4 linked regions of the Homo sapiens genome follow. The protein of the gene in region 2 interacts with the protein of the main gene of each other region in a pairwise test. Each region holds a gene or a part of one and is shown on either strand. Other genes may lie near its edges.

Evidence for each region. Proteins that work in one complex are often made in the same cells at the same time.
Region 1: the proteins of PAK1 (region 2) and KLHL20 interact in binary tests that used the Homo sapiens proteins (3 or more experiments, as listed by UniProt).
Region 3: the proteins of PAK1 (region 2) and TCP10L interact in binary tests that used the Homo sapiens proteins (3 or more experiments, as listed by UniProt).
Region 4: the proteins of PAK1 (region 2) and NOTCH1 interact in binary tests that used the Homo sapiens proteins (3 or more experiments, as listed by UniProt).

Annotation. Positions count from the first base shown.
Region 1 is NC_000001.11:173,783,747-173,787,192, forward strand, and holds the end of KLHL20 (kelch-like protein 20), read left to right. Parts: intron 1-1,416; coding exon 1,417-1,501; 3' UTR 1,502-2,946; downstream 2,947-3,446. UniProt on the Homo sapiens protein: Substrate-specific adapter of a BCR (BTB-CUL3-RBX1) E3 ubiquitin-protein ligase complex involved in interferon response and anterograde Golgi to endosome transport.
Region 2 is NC_000011.10:77,330,795-77,334,974, forward strand, and holds part of PAK1 (serine/threonine-protein kinase PAK 1), read right to left. Parts: intron 2,074-4,180; coding exon 1,936-2,073; intron 1-1,935. UniProt on the Homo sapiens protein: Protein kinase involved in intracellular signaling pathways downstream of integrins and receptor-type kinases that plays an important role in cytoskeleton dynamics, in cell adhesion, migration, proliferation, apoptosis, mitosis, and in vesicle-mediated transport processes.
Region 3 is NC_000021.9:32,579,024-32,582,863, forward strand, and holds part of TCP10L (T-complex protein 10A homolog 1), read right to left. Parts: intron 3,393-3,840; coding exon 3,177-3,392; intron 1-3,176. Other genes in the region: CFAP298-TCP10L (uncharacterized protein LOC110091775), read right to left, coding at 3,177-3,392. UniProt on the Homo sapiens protein: May be involved in transcriptional regulation. Has in vitro transcription inhibition activity. Acts as a tumor suppressor in hepatocellular carcinoma (HCC) cells.
Region 4 is NC_000009.12:136,497,549-136,501,388, forward strand, and holds part of NOTCH1 (neurogenic locus notch homolog protein 1 preproprotein), read right to left. Parts: intron 3,300-3,840; coding exon 3,004-3,299; intron 1,712-3,003; coding exon 1,564-1,711; intron 1,449-1,563; coding exon 1,351-1,448; intron 11-1,350; coding exon 1-10. UniProt on the Homo sapiens protein: Functions as a receptor for membrane-bound ligands Jagged-1 (JAG1), Jagged-2 (JAG2) and Delta-1 (DLL1) to regulate cell-fate determination.

The sequences.
Region 1 (3,446 bases), on a different chromosome or scaffold from region 2:
AATCCCAGCTACTTGGGAGGCTGAGGCAGGAGAATCACTTGAACCTGGGGTCAGAGGTTGCAGTGAGCAGAGATTGGGCCATTGCACTGCAGCCTGGGTGACAGAGCAAGACTCCGTCTCAAAAAAAAAAAAAGATTTACTAAGTGCTCCGAGCCCTGGGGATACAAAACTGAACAACAACAACAAAAATTCCTGCCAAGCGCACGCCTGTAATCCCAGCTACTAGGGAGGCTGAGGCATGAGAATCTCTTGAACCCAGAAGGTGGAGGTTGCAGTGAGCCGAGATCACACCACTGCACTCTAGCCTGAGTGGAAGAGCAAGACTCCGTCTCAAAACAAAACAAAACAACAAAAAAGTTCCTTGCCCTGCTGGAGCTAACCAATTGTATTGAGGGAGACAAACAGTACCATACCAGTAGATGGAAGTGCTGTGGCAAATATCAAAGCAGGGGAGGGGGCTAGGGAGTACAGGGAGGGGAATCTGTTTTTAAAGGTGTTCAGGGAAGGCCTCATTGGAAAGGTAGCATTTTAGCAAAACCTAAATACGGTAAAGGATAGGTAATGGCAGCTTTGGGCCTCTCACTGGCAGGATATTTTCTTCCATATACAGCTTTCTATTTTTACTAGGAATTTTGATTAAGCATAATTTCTGAAGACAGCCAAATTTACTGTCACTTAATCACTATAATCTTATCTGAGGACTTGTTTCTTAGTAACTGTCACTAAATAGAATTAGTAATAGATGACAAAGTAATAGTCATGAAATTATTGAGGATCATCTGTTGAAAGATTAATAACTAAATATTTGCAGTTACATATCCAAGACTTAAAAACCAACTCTACCTCATAGCTGATAAGGGTCTAGTATTCTTCTCCATGGAAAGTCCTTAATTTTGAAGATGATCTTGTCACAAACTAGATGCTGACTTTACTCAAATCTGGTTTTGTTCTATAAAGGACTTGAAGAGGCTTACAGAGTACATATAAGACAAAGGGATAAAAATAAATAATTGAAGAATTTTAGGCAAAGGGAAAACATAGGTGGGACAATAATATAGCCAGGGGCAAAATTTTGAAAATGTAGAATATATAATTCTGTGTAACCGTTAGAAGTCAGTGAGGTATACAGTTGTAAAGTTCTGATGCCAAACGTGAATATGATGCTCTCTTATTCTTCACACAGCCTCCTATGAGTGAGAGCATGTCAGTCAATCTCTGAAACAGTCCTGCTACTCAACAGTGCTCAATTGCAGCTTCTAATCTTTAGAATGAAGACAATATTAGTGTGAAGCTGAAAATATTAGTTGTAATATAAAACATAGAAACGTGTTAATAACATCTTAGTCGTAGTTAATAACATCTTAGTTGTAACATATTTTCCAGTTAGAAAATATGATTATGTTTCTTTCTTTGCAGGTTATATGGCGGGATGAATTACCGTCGGCTAGGGGGTGGCGTAGGAGTTATTAAAATGACACATTGTGAATCCCATATTTGGTGAACACAGAGAAGACAGTCTTGTATATATTCCTCTGTATTCTGGGGAGCTTTGACCTTGGAGCTTTGTACAGCTTGAGAAAACATTAGAACAAATTTTATTATTTGCCGGTGCCTCAACAAATGGAAATACAATCCAATGAAAGTACTTCACCTGCAAGATGCACAATAATTTTCAACTCTGTGCAGAAGAATATTTATTTTTGGTTTTAATTTATCATGGTTTTTTGTTGTTTTCGTTTTGAACTTATCCTTCCTCCCACAAAAAAAGAAAAGAAGAAAAAATTCCAAGCAGCAAAACTTACTTTGTTTGTAAGGTATTCATTTAGGTTTGAAAATACTATTTAATAAGGGCAGAAGGGCTATATATGATTTGGCTATTATTTCTAGACACTCCATCCACATGATTCCACTAACAAGGATTACCAGGAATAAAGGTAGGTATGCAAAATGTATTAGCTACCCATTATTCTCGCACTAACCACCAGAAGACTTGAAAATCTTAAAAAAAAAAAACAAAAAAACAAGAAAAGGCAACATCTCATTTTAAATAGTACAATTCAGAAGGGATACTAAATCAATAAAAACCAGGACTCAGACACTACAGTTTTCATCAGTGTAATTTTATGTCTTGTTTCTTTCTATATGAACTTGTTTATTTAGTCTTTTTTTCATAATATTCTCATAGAGTTTCTGCTAGATCTAGAGCTCTGCTCAGTGCCTCTTATAAAAACAATATATAAGTCTCATATGCTGTCTTGAGAATCCAAGAGAATCACATGCAGCTCTGCAACAGTTTTTGCTCAAAAATGTTACTGACTAAAGCAACTGTCCTTCCTGTTTCCTTATTGCTACCAAGGACCAGCAGGGAGAAATGTCTTCTCCCAGCAGTGAATTCTGTTATGCAATTTATTCTTGATGCTCAGGCCTGGTTAAGCTGAGGCTTACCTTTAATAACAGCCTCCAAGGGAATGAATTATTCAGTTAATGTAATAGCACACATTAAAGAGTGTAAAATCAATTGAGGCATTTTATTAATATCTTGGTTCTTTTATACAAACAATGTATCATTATCTTCATTCTATAAGGTCATTGTTACTACTTCTCTCAAATTGCACTTTCTGGTAAAAAGTTAAAAATTTTTAAGGAAAAAATAATTTCAATGGTTAAAGTTTTTTTTCCTCATTGTATTCATAGACAAATTTTTTTCAATATATTTTGCAAGAAAAATCTTTGAATAAGACTAACTGCATTTAAAAGGAATAACCTCCTTCTCCCTTTCCCCAACTACAAAAATGTTTGGCAACTTTGTGTTTACATTTAAAGATCATTTGCACCTTTTTCAAGGAAAAAAAGTATTGAGTAAACAATTGTTTACATATATCATTTATGCTTTTTTCTAGCATGTATAACTTTTTTAAATAAAGGTAGTATTTACCATTAAAAAAATTTTAGCTAATGCTTTTTATCCTTGTACTTTTGTTATTTAATTTGGAATTTCTGTTTCTATATAATTTATTTTATCTGTATGTAAAGTTACAAGTGCTTTCAACTTGAATAAAAGGATTGCCAGCTAGAATTAATAGGAATTTTCATTATATATTTTTATATGTTATATTACCTAACCTATAAACTTATTTTCTAGGTAGGACTTAGACTCATACAATTTTGAGCTGGAAGGACTCTTTAACAATCATCTAGTCCAAACCCACTTATTACACTGATCCAAGTCTGAAAACCACAAAGTCTGCCTAAGAATAAATAGTCAATTAATGATAGAACCAACATTAGAAATCAGCTTCCTCAATTCCCAGTCCATTCCTCTTTCTATGCCACACTGCCACTATAGGTTTACCTGAAACTAAATATAATAAAAGACCTTAAGTATTTTAATTAAGTCTGGTATTAACATGTAAAAAGTATAAAAACTTTTATGAGATCCTCACTGT
Region 2 (4,180 bases):
TAAACTAAAGAGCTTCTGCACAGCAAAAGAAACCACCATCAGAGTGAACAGGCAACCTACAGGATGGGAGAAAATTTTTGCAACCTACTCATCTGACAAAGGGCTAATATCCAGAATCTACAACGAACTCAAACAAATTTACAAGAAAAAAACAAACAACCCCATCAAAAAGTGGGCGAAGGATATGAACAGACACTTCTCAAAAGAAGACATTTACATAGCCAAAAAACACATAAAAAATGCTCATCATCACTGGCCATCAGGGAAATGCAAATCAAAACCACAATGAGATACCATCTCACACCAGTTAGAATGGCGATCATTAAAAAGTCAGGAAACAACACGTGCTGGAGAGGATGTGGAGAAATACGAACACTTTTACACTGTTGGTGGGAGTGTAAACTAGTTCAACCATTGTGGAAGTCAGTGTGGCAATTCCTCAGGGATCTAGAACTAGAAATACCATTTGACCCAGCCATCCCATTACTGGGTATATACCCAAAGGATTATAAATCATGCTGCTGTAAAGACACATGCACACGTATGTTTATAGTGGCACTATTCACAACAGCAAAGACTTGGAACCAACCTAAATGTCCAACAACGATAGACTGGATTAAGAAAATGTGGCACATATACACCATGGAATACTATGCAGCCATAAAAAATGATGAGTTCATGTCCTTTGTAGGGACATGGATGAAACTGGAAACCATCATTCTCAGCAAACTATTGCAAGGACAAAAAACCAAACACTGCATGTTCTCACTCATAGGTAGGAAATGAACAATGAGAACACATGGACACAGGAAGGGGAACATCACACACCCGGGACTGTTGTGGGGTCAGGGGAGGGTGGAGGGATAGCATTAAGAGATATACCTAATGCTAAATGACGAGTTAATGGGTACAGCACACCAACATGGTACATGTATACATATGTAACAAACCTGCACGTTGTGCACATGTACCCTAAAACTTAAAAGTATAATAATAATAAAATGTAAAAAAAAAAGAATTAAAAAAAAAGAAAGAAAAATAAAACATAAATAAAATAAAATAAACTTATGTTCCTTTGCTAAAAATGTATCCTTTGAGCTAATCCCAGCAAAATATAAGTTGTGTAAGATTTGGGTGTCAGAGACCCGTTTCTCAACAAGACTCAAACAAACTCTGCCAGACTAATTCAAACAGAACAAAGGAAGTGCTAATGAAAGATACAAGCAGGCTGGTCATGGTGGCCCATGCCTGTAGTCCCAGCACTTTGGGAAAGCGAAGTGCGCAGATCGCTTGAACCCAGGAATTTGAGACCATGCACGGCCAACATAGCAAAACCCCGTCTCTACAAAAAAGTTTTTAAAAAACTAGCCAGGTATGGTGGCGTGCACCTGTAGTCTGAGCTACCTGGGAGGCTGAGGTGGGAAGATCACTTGAGTGAACCCAGGAGAGGAAGACTGCAGTGAGACAAAATCACGCCATTGCACACTCCTGCCTGGGTGACAGAGTGAGACCCTGTGGGGCGTGAGAGGAAGGGGGAGAGGGAAGAGGGGGGGGAAAGGGAAGGGAAGGGAAAGGAAGGGAAGGGAAGGGAAGGGAAGGGAAGGGAAAGGAAGGGAAGGAAAGGGAAAGGAAGAAGAAAGGAAAGGAAGGAAGGAAGCAAGCAAAAAAGCTACAAGCAAAGCTCAATAGGTGCTCAGAAAATAGATTGTAAACTGAGCCTAGGAGAACGTGTAGAGTTTTAACAGGCTGAGAAAGGCTAAGAAAATAAATGAGCAAAGGCCCAGGGATAAAAGGGCAGTAGGAACAGAGTGAGTGTAGGAAGTGGTAGAAGAGAAGCCTAGTTCTATAATATCCAGTACCTTACAAACATGAAGTAAAAAAGGCCTGGTTTAGTGATTCCCTGAATTAGGTGCTTCCCTGCATAAGGACAGTTACCTGTAGCAGCTCTTTAGCTGAACCTCTCTTCTCCACATCCATCTCGAGACAGCGGTTCAGAAAGTCCCGGAAGATAGCTGACAGCTTCTCTGGGTTCTGAAGTTCTGGGGTCCCATTGGTGGCAATGAGGTACAAGGCCTGGCAATAAAAATGGTGAATCACCTTGAGCTCCAAATGAGGCTCTCTCTTGTTCCCCATATACAAGTTCTAGAAATATGGTCAGCTGCTTTATGCTCTAGGATGCAAAGTAGCAGCTGTGTATATATACTGGAAAGAGTATGACCTAAGGATCAGGTTGAACATTTAAAGGCCATGGGACTATGTACAACTTCCCTGTCTGTAAAGTAGGGATGATGATAATGCCCATCTCACATGTCTGTAAAAATAAAATAAGATAGTGTATTTGAAAGTACTTTGTAAACTTATGAAATATGTTACAGACCTAAGGGTTTATTCTTCTTCTTCTTTTTTTTTTTTTTTTTTTTTGAGATGGAGTCTTGCTCTGTCGCCCAGGCTGGAGTGCAGTGGCACGATCTTGGCTCACTGCAACCTCCACCTCCCAGGTTCAAGCAATTCTCCTGACTCAGCCTCCCAAGTAGCTGGGATTACAGGCACCAGCCACTACACCCGACTGCTTTTCGTATTTTCAGTAGAGACGGGGTTTTACCATGTTGGCCTGGCTGGTCTCAAACTCCTAGACTCAAGTGATCCTCCTGCCTCAACCTCCCAAAGTGCTGGGATTACAGGCGTGAGTCACTGTGCCTGGCTTTATTATTATTCTTGCTTACACATCTGAAGGGTTTATTATCCATTTAGCCTGTTGAGTTAAACATCTGCCCAGCTGCTGGCAGAAATTATTCCTGGTGCCTTCACCTCAGTCATCCAAGAACTGATCTCTTCTAGCAGGAAAGGAATATTAAATGTAAGTGAAAACTGTTGCCACCCTAGTCCCCTAAATGAAGCGTCTCCTGGGAAAGGTAAAGAAAAACAGTAAGACTAAATCTTTACAAGCACTCAGCACTTAATTCAAAGAGTACTTACATAAGCACTGTCTAATTTAATGGCCACAATTAACTCTGGGTAATAGGGCAAGACTTATCATCTTCACTTCACAGATAGGGTCCGGAAACATAAAAAGATATGTCTAGGGCCGGGCGTGGTGGCTCACTCCTGTAATCCCAGCACTTTGGGAGGCTGAGGTGGGTGGATCACCTGAGGTCAGGAGTTCGAGACCATCGAGAACAGCCTGACCAATATGGCGAAATGTGGTCTCTACTAAAAATACAAAACTTAGCTGGGCATGGTGGCAGGTGCCTGTAATCCCAGCTACTCAGGAGGCTGAGGCAGGAGAATCGCTTGAACCTGGGAGGTGGAGGTTGCGGTGAGCTGAGATCACACCATTGCACTCCAGCCTAGGTGACAGAGTGAGACTCCATCTCAAAAAAAAAAATAAAATAAAAATAAAAAAATAAAAAAATATGCCTATGTCTAGGATCATTCTGTCTTATTTCCAACATATCCCAGCAATTATCATCTTCAAATATCTGCAAGGCCGTTCTAAGGGAGGGAAGAGTATGTTGTATGTGGAGTCAGAGGCAAAGCTGGGATCAAAGGATAGAAACTACAGAAGGTAGTTTCAGTTTGGTGCACTGAAGCAATTTCCAATAATCAGAGATATTCAAGGATGACATGAGCATGTAGATGACCACCTACCAGCAACAGTGCACAGGGAATTCCTGCACTGGATGGGAGGTGGGAATAAATGAGAAAATAAAAGCAATCAGAATAAATTTCACATTTGCCCACACCAAGATTACCAACCTATTTGCACCTGTGTTGAGATGCTCTGTTACAAGGGATAAATTGTCCATGCTAATCTAATGTCCTTTACTTCAGTACTTGATCGAACCCCTCTCATCGACTTAAGGATATCACTTCTATGGTTGTCACTTCCTTCTTGTACATGACCATTTTCCTCCTCTCCACTAAATCATTCCCATTAGCACACAGACATCATCTTTTAGAAAAACCCTCCCTTGACTCCATTTTAAGATAGTGCTCCATTTTTGTTACCCTTCCCAGCAAAATTCCTTTAAGAGAAAAAAAAACCTGTTTATACATGCCATCTCAATGTCCTCTTCTTCCACTTTCATGAATTTAATTAGACTTTCATCCCCATCTCTCTACTGATAACTGATTATTAAGGTCATTAAGAACCTCTACATTGGCAAATCCAATGTTCATT
Region 3 (3,840 bases), on a different chromosome or scaffold from region 2:
GTGGAGCCGATGTTTGCTTTGTGTTTCTTATTGTGGTTCCTTGTTTCAAAATGATCACAGGATCCCAAAGGCTACAGAACAAACAATCCCCAACATATCTTCCTTTAGGCTCCTGTGTCTTCAACCGGGAGTGTGTTAACGGAGGAAGAAAATGTGATACTACTTCTAGTGTTGTCTCTACAACTTGTCTAAGATCCAAAATGCAAATTCCCAACTTTCCCTGTTATCAGCAGACTGACCTGGAACAGGGTGATCCTTCAGGTGGGATGAGGTATATTAGGTCTGGAATGCTAAATTATTCACCGTTCTGCCCTCTGAGGAGGAGAAGGGAATGAGAAGGGGAGAGGGTTGCTATGAACGAACCCTTAATATCAGATCCAGAGTGGCTCACCCACACAGCCATGCCCGCGTTCTGTGGGTGCTCGAGTCTCAGCCTTTTAGATATTCAGTCCCTAAAACGGCGACTACACACAGATACACCTTCGCATATTTAAAGTGTGGGATTCACATATCCCATCCTGTTTCTTCAAATCAGGTATGCTCTTGTGAGCGTACATCCTGTTCTTATAAATAGCCCCACGGTGACCAGTGCAATGCACAGAATGGAAAAATATTTGGAAATTCACCAAGCTCTAATCTCAAAATAAGAGAATGATCAAAACTGCAGGGCATGTGAAGACTGAATAAGACTTCATTGACTCTTAGGGTAATTGTTATACAATGACCCAAATGGGGCAGTAGATACTATTTTTTAGGAACTGGCATACAATATATGTAGGGAAAAAAATCCCTGTGAGTCTTCTTGGGTTCTCCCCACAGAAGGTGGACAATCCCGGCCAGTATTTGTGGCAATTTCCCCCACTCTTCCTCTGACAGAGGAACAGCCTGCCCAGCTTCTGCTCTTCCTTCCGCAGAAGGACTCGGCGCTTTGCTGTGCTGAGAGGCTAAACTCACTTTCTTTCTGAGGCAGCAGAAGCCATCTCCATGGAAACAAAGCTCTCGCAGAGCTCCCGAAGAGTGGGAATAACTTCCAAGATTTCCCGTAATTTCTTGTAGAGGAACTTGTGGCAGTTTTTTTTGTTTGTTTGTTTTGTTTTTTTCAGACGGAGTCTTGCTCTGTCCCCCAGGCTGGAGTGCAGTGGCGCGATCTCGGCTCACTGCAAGCTCCACCTCCCTGATTCAGGCCATTCTCCAGCCTCAGCCTCCCGAGTAGCTGGGACTATAGGCACCCGCCACCACACCTGGCTAATGTTTTTGTATTTTTAGTAGAGACGGGGTTTCACCGTGTTAGCCAGGATGGTCTCAATCTCCTGACCTCACGATCCACCTGCCTCGGCCTCCCAAAGTGCTGGGATTACAGGTGTGAGCCACCGCGCCCAGCTGTGGCTGTTTTTGCTGTGCTTGGAGAACAAACCACAGAGCAGTCTCCTCTGGAATGTATTCGGTGGGTGCCTGTGTGTGTGTGTGTGTGTGTGTGTGTGTGTGTGTGTGTGTTGTAATCACTGTGCTGTATCGGAAATATTCTAAGTCCTGGAAGTACCGATTTAAAAGTTCACACAATAAATGCAGCTAGGAAATGTTAGTACTTTTCTTAATCCACTAAGAAATATCCCCACTTACGTTTGGAGGGTGTTCATGTGGTTTCATGTGTTGTTACCTGTATGTATAATTTTAATGATTCAAGTTATTTAGATCCATATGCAGGAAACAGAACCCAGACAAGGCAGTGATAACACTGGCCACATTCACACTCTCTTAGGCTGGTTCTTTGAGCGGTGTGATCAAACGTGAAAGCTCAGTGTTCTGTAGAGGCAGGCTGGTGCTGGGAGGCACCCACTACTTCAGCATGAGAATGCTGGTTCTTCGTTCGGGATAGAGCAGGTTAGTGATACAGGATGGGGGCAGGAAAGTCCTGGGTGGAGAAGAACGGGGTCCCTGGCTAGGGCTCGACCCCTGGGCCTGTGCCCATGGACCTACGCATTTCTGCTTTTGTGCCCAAATGTTGCATTTCCCAAGACCACCGTGGCCTGCCACACTCCCATCCTATGCCTATAAAAACCCCAAGACCCTAGCGGGCAGAGACCAAGCGGCTGGATGTCGAGAAGAACACACCGGCAGAAGAGCACACCAGCAGACACAGCAGACGCCAGCAGGCCATCGACTGGCGGAATGACACGGAGTTTGCTTGGGGTGGTCAGGGGAGAGCCCGGTCACTGGGCAGCCCAACTCCCAAGGGGAAAACTGCCTTCCCACTCCATCTCCCTTCTGGCTCCCCCATCTGCTGACAGGTATCACCACTCAATAAAAAACCTTGCACCCATCCTCCAAGCCCATGTGTGATCTGATTTTTCAGGTACACCAAGGCAAGAACCCAGGATACAGAAAGCCCTCTGTCCTTGTGATAAGGCAGAGGGTCTAATTGAGCTGATAAACACAAGCTGCCTACGGAGGGGTAAACTGAAAGAGCTCCCGCACTGTAACACACACCCTCTGGGGCTTCAGCTGGAAACATTCACCCCCAGACACTGCCGTGGGGTCAGAGCCCCATAGCCTGCCGGTCTGTACACTCCCCTAGAGGTTTGAGCAGTGGGGAACCAAAGAAGCGAGCCACACCCCCATCGCACACCCTGCGAGGGGGACAAGGGAACTTTTCCCGTTTCAACAGGTCTCTATTGCATTCTACACAGCTGTCCTAGAGGATGAACAGAAGGACACCAGGCTACTGAGCTGGCTCTGGAGTCACCCTGGGTTCAAATCCCAGCTCTACGTTCTCCAGCCCGTGGCCACGATGGGGTTAGTAATAGGATCCATTTCATAGGGTCGTCATAGAGAGTAAGACCGTAAAGCTCCGTACCTAGCCCATGTAAAGTCCACAGTAAGGGTTTGCTGCTGTTGTCCTGAGACATCATGAGATGTCTTAGAATTCTGGACTTGAGACACACGGCCTGGGGGCGGCAATGCTTCTGTCTGCTGGAGTGCCAGGTGAGAGGCCTGATGTATCCAGTTCTTATTAATCATTACTTACGGGAAATGGAGTTGATGGAAAGATAGCAACCCCTCCCACCACCCGGAGCGTGAGTGATACCGCGTCATTCAGCAATAAAGCCCACATCTTTATGGGGACGCTATTTTTACATAACGCAAACGGTACAAAAACATAAATGCGCTTTTGGTACCAGAGTGTGCGATTCTTGCCCCGCGTGTGGGGACGCTGCAGATTTCTTCCTGGCTTTCCACCGCTGCAGCTGCAGAGCTCTCAGCTTTTCTCGGAGCTCCATGTTCTGCTCCCTCAAAGCATCTATATGACTCCGGAGTTTTCCATGAACATCAGCCCACAGAGACTTCTGTCTCCCAAGCTCTTGGTGGAGTCTGATGATCTGCTGCTGTAATGGCTGTTATTGGGAAGAGAACACCAGAAAAACCTCTCAGATGTCACAATGGGCACATTTATCTGCAAAATACTCAAGCCCTCTCTGATGTAAGACCAACACTATTTCTGGAATAAAAGACACCCGATGAGATAAACAGGACTACCACAGCCTTTTTCTTTCTTCTTTCTTTCCTTTCTTTCTTTCTTTTCTTTTCTTTTTTCAGGGTCTCACTCAGTCACTCAGGCTGGAGTGCAGTGGCATGATCTCAGCTCACTGAAGCTTCAACTTGATGAGCTCAAGCGATCCTCCTGTCTCGACCTCCCAAATAGCTGGGACTACAGGCATGTGCCACCATACTTCGCTAATTTTTGTATTTTTACTCGGGATGGGGGTTCACCATGTTGCCCAGACTGGTCTCAAACTCCTGGGCTCAAGCAATCCACCTGCCTCGGCCTCCCAAAGTGCTGGG
Region 4 (3,840 bases), on a different chromosome or scaffold from region 2:
GTGTCTCCTCCTGGGGGATGAGGGCGGGGGCCGGTGAGGGGGGCCAGGCCAGGCGTGGGGACCCTCCCCAAGGTTCCATCACCAGAGGAAGCAGCAGTACAACCTCCTCCGCGGGGTGGGGGCAGGCAGGCTGCTCCTCAGGACCCCACCCCAGCGTCCTGCAACCACCTAGCCTGACTCTTGTTAAATGTTAAGGCTTTGATACATCTTCTGAAACCCACCCAGAGAGGGGATCTGTGCAGTCCTCTACCCTAGATCAGCGGGGCTCCACCTCTATGGGGGGGTCACAGACCCCACTGAAAATCTAACCAACTGCAGGCCCTCTTCCCTGCCCCCAATAAGGCACAAAAGGAAATTCCTGGAGCGGTTCAGAGGCACCGGCGAGGGCACCAGGGAGGGAGCTCGTCATCTGGACGGCCATCAAGCCACCCTGGTGGCCACCAAGCTCCTTCCTGGGGTCTCCTCTGTGCGGTGGACACGTCACAGGTCTGGGTGAGGCTGCTGTGTGGGAGTGGGAAGGGGCTTCCCAGGCCTTGATGCCCTCTGGGGCCCAGTCTCTGTGGGGCCATGCTGCCACGGACTGGGGAGCGCCTGGGCCAACATGCCCCGGTGCCCAGGCCCGCTGTGTGCCCTCACCCAGGAGGGAGAGACGCCTGAGCCTGACATGCCAAGGGGGCAGCAGGAGTTGGGGGCGGGGGTGGGGGTTCTGGCGGCAGGGAGGTGGGGGTGTCTGCACCTGTGCCCTGAGCACCCAGGGGAAACCAACAGCAGCTGCAGGGCCAGGAGCTGCAGGGCCAGGATGAGGGCTGGGGGTGGCTCCCCTTGGATATAGTCCTGAGACTTCTTCCTCTGAGCCTTGAGGTCCTTGGCCTTGGTGAACACACCAAGAGGCCCCGCCCCGCAGGGAGCTGCCGCCACGCGTGTTCTGGCTCAATCTGCACCACCTGCGTCACCACATTCCCATCCCCACCCCCGCCTGGTGACAGCTGGGGACAGAAGGTGAGGTCCAGGTGACGGTGACACAGCAGTGGCAGCAGCAGCGTTCCCCACGCCAGGCTGTGTGCCCCGCCATGACTGCCGCCCAGGAGGGTAGGGCTGGGTCTGAGGGGCGAGCCGCCGTGTCCTGACAGCTGGACCTGCACTTGGAAGGGCTCCATAAACGGGGGCTGAAGGAAGGCAGGAGCACTAACGAGGTGCCCGCATCATGCGGGTGGGGCCCACATGCGGGCCCAGCGACCCTCGAGACCCTGTGGGTCAGGCCCTTGTGTCCCTGCGCCCCGTGGGTTTGGCCCTCACTTCTCTGTGGATTCAGCCCTCACGTCTCCCCTGGCATCCCAGCCTCGCGCTCACCCTGTTGTTCTGCATATCTTTGTTAGCCCCGTTCTTCAGGAGCACAACTGCGGCATCCACATTGTTCACGGCGGCGGCCCAGTGCAGGGCGGACTTGCCTGCGTGAAAGAAGCAGATGGGGTAGGTTGGAGACCAGCTGGAGGCAACCCAGTCCCACCCGTCCCTGTGGCGGTCCCGCCCCACGACAGAGCAGCCGTGCCCCCGTGGGCTCACCCAGGTCATCTACGGCGTTGACGTCGGCGTGTGAGTTGATGAGGTCCTCCAGCATGCCCTCCACGGCCAGGCGGGCAGCCAGGATCAGTGGCGTCGTGCCATCATGCATGCGGGCATCCAGGTCTGTGGCTCGGTTCCGGATCAGGATCTGGGCAACAGGGAGAGGCTCAGGCGGGTGCTGGGCAGACGTACACCGATGCCTCCTGCCCAGAACGAACGCCTGGACGGGAAGCCCCACTGTCTTCCGGACACAGACGAGACCCTCCTGAGATCGGCACGGCCGGGCAAGACGAAACGCCATGGGGCTGCCCCTGAGGAGGGGCCCGGATGGGGGCAGGGGCTGTGCTGCCCACAGACAGGCCCCTTGGTGACAGTGGGATCCATCGTGACCACGTGTGGCCTCATTTAATCCTCACTGTGGTCCTAGCTGCCATGACCACCTACAAAACAGAGAGGTCAAGTCCCTGCCCCCAACGGCGGTTACAGCTGGCACTCAGGAAGCCGGGCTCACGGCCCTACAGCCGTCTCAGAACCGCCGAGCTAGTGTCCGGCTCTGCCCAGAGAGGGGGTGGGCAGCCCTTGTAATGCAGCCGGGTCTTGGCATCTGGCAGGAGGAATGGCCCCTGCTCACTGGCGGGTGCAAAAGGCAACTTGGCCTGATTCCTGCAAAGCACCTGGGAACTTCCACATCTGTGCAAAGAAGGCAGCTGAGAGAGGCACACACCAAACCCGCACGGGGCTCCCTTCCACGCTCTTTCTGCTCACCTACATTTATTTCTGCGAGATGACAATGTGTCACCTGAGCTAAGAAATCAGGAAATGAGAAGCTCTGTGGTAACTCCCCGGGCTGTGCCCATCTGAACCTGCTTGCTCCAGGGCCGCCTGGAGCCTGGGGACTCGCAGCAGGGGTGACTGCAAAGGCAGCCCCTGCCAGGGACACTCCCTGGAGACCCAGGCATCCAAATCCCTAAATCCATTCTTGCCACGAGCTCACCGGCAAGCTGAGCCCTAGGTCTGCAGGCACCGAGCGGCAGCCTCTAAACCCTGCTTCTCACTGCCACAGGCTACGCCGGCAGCCAAGGTTGAGGGAGGGGCGGGGCTGCGAGGGGCTGCAGCAGTGGAACCTGGACCTTGAGCAAGGCCCACAACCCTGATGGAGCCTGTTTTGCTGGGGGTGGGGAGGTGCTGCCTCACTCAGCAGATCCCCCAGGCCTCCTGCCAGACCCGCCTCTGCCTGACTTCCCTGGAGAACACAGATGGGCCCGACGCCCTCCCCCTCGCACCTCGCTGACTGCGAAGGTCCCAGGTGGAGGCACCAGTTGTCCCGGACTCAGCTGTGCTCGGGGTCAGGCTCCCAGGGCCACGTAAGCCTGGCCACTGCCCCAGACCACCAGGCGGCCCTGAGGAGGGCAGGTGGGCACACAGGCAGCCACTGCCTACCTGGAAGACACCTTGTGCGTCGGCAGACACAGCCGCATGCAGCGGGGTGCGGCCCATGTTGTCCTGGATGTTGGCATCTGCGCTGGCCTCCAGCAGGCGCTTGGCGGCATCAGAGCGTGAGTAGCGGGCGGCCAGGTGCAAGGCGGTCTCGCCCGTGCGGTCTGTCTGGTTGTGCAGGCTGGCGCCCTGGTAGATGAAGTCGGAGATGACGGCCGGCGCGTCCTCCTCTTCCTCGCTGTTGCCCGTCTCCAGGCCGCCCCCGCTGCAGGAGGCGATCATGAGCGGGGTGAAGCCATCTGCAGAGGCAGAGACGGGTGCTCAGTCTGGAGGGCCGGTCCCCAGCTGCAGCCCAGGGGGAGGGGGGCAGCAGCCCCAAGCTCAAGGGGCCACGGTGTGGATGCACCACCCAGCACTTGGTGGCCCCGTGCACACAGCCACCAAGGGGCAGCTGAAGTCCGCCTGGGCTGCTCAGTGGACAGAGCCGAATCCAGCTTAAACTCCTGGCGGGCAACTGCTTCCTGACCTGCCCAAGACCTGGCACCCAAAATCCACCCAGGAAAAAGAGGACCCCAGAAGCATGCAGTTAGAAAATTAATGCTTCAGCAGGATGCGGAGGCTCACGCTGTCATCCTAGCACTGGGGGAGGCCGAGGTGGGCGGATCACCTGAGGTCAGGAGTTCGAGACCAGCCTGGCCAACATGGTGAAACCCCATCGCTGCTAAAAATACAAAAATTAGCCAGGTGTGGTGGCAGGCGCCTGTAGTCCCAGCTACTGGGGAGGCTGAGGCAGGAGAATTGCTTGAACCCGAGAGGTGGAGGTTGCAGGGAGCCGAGATC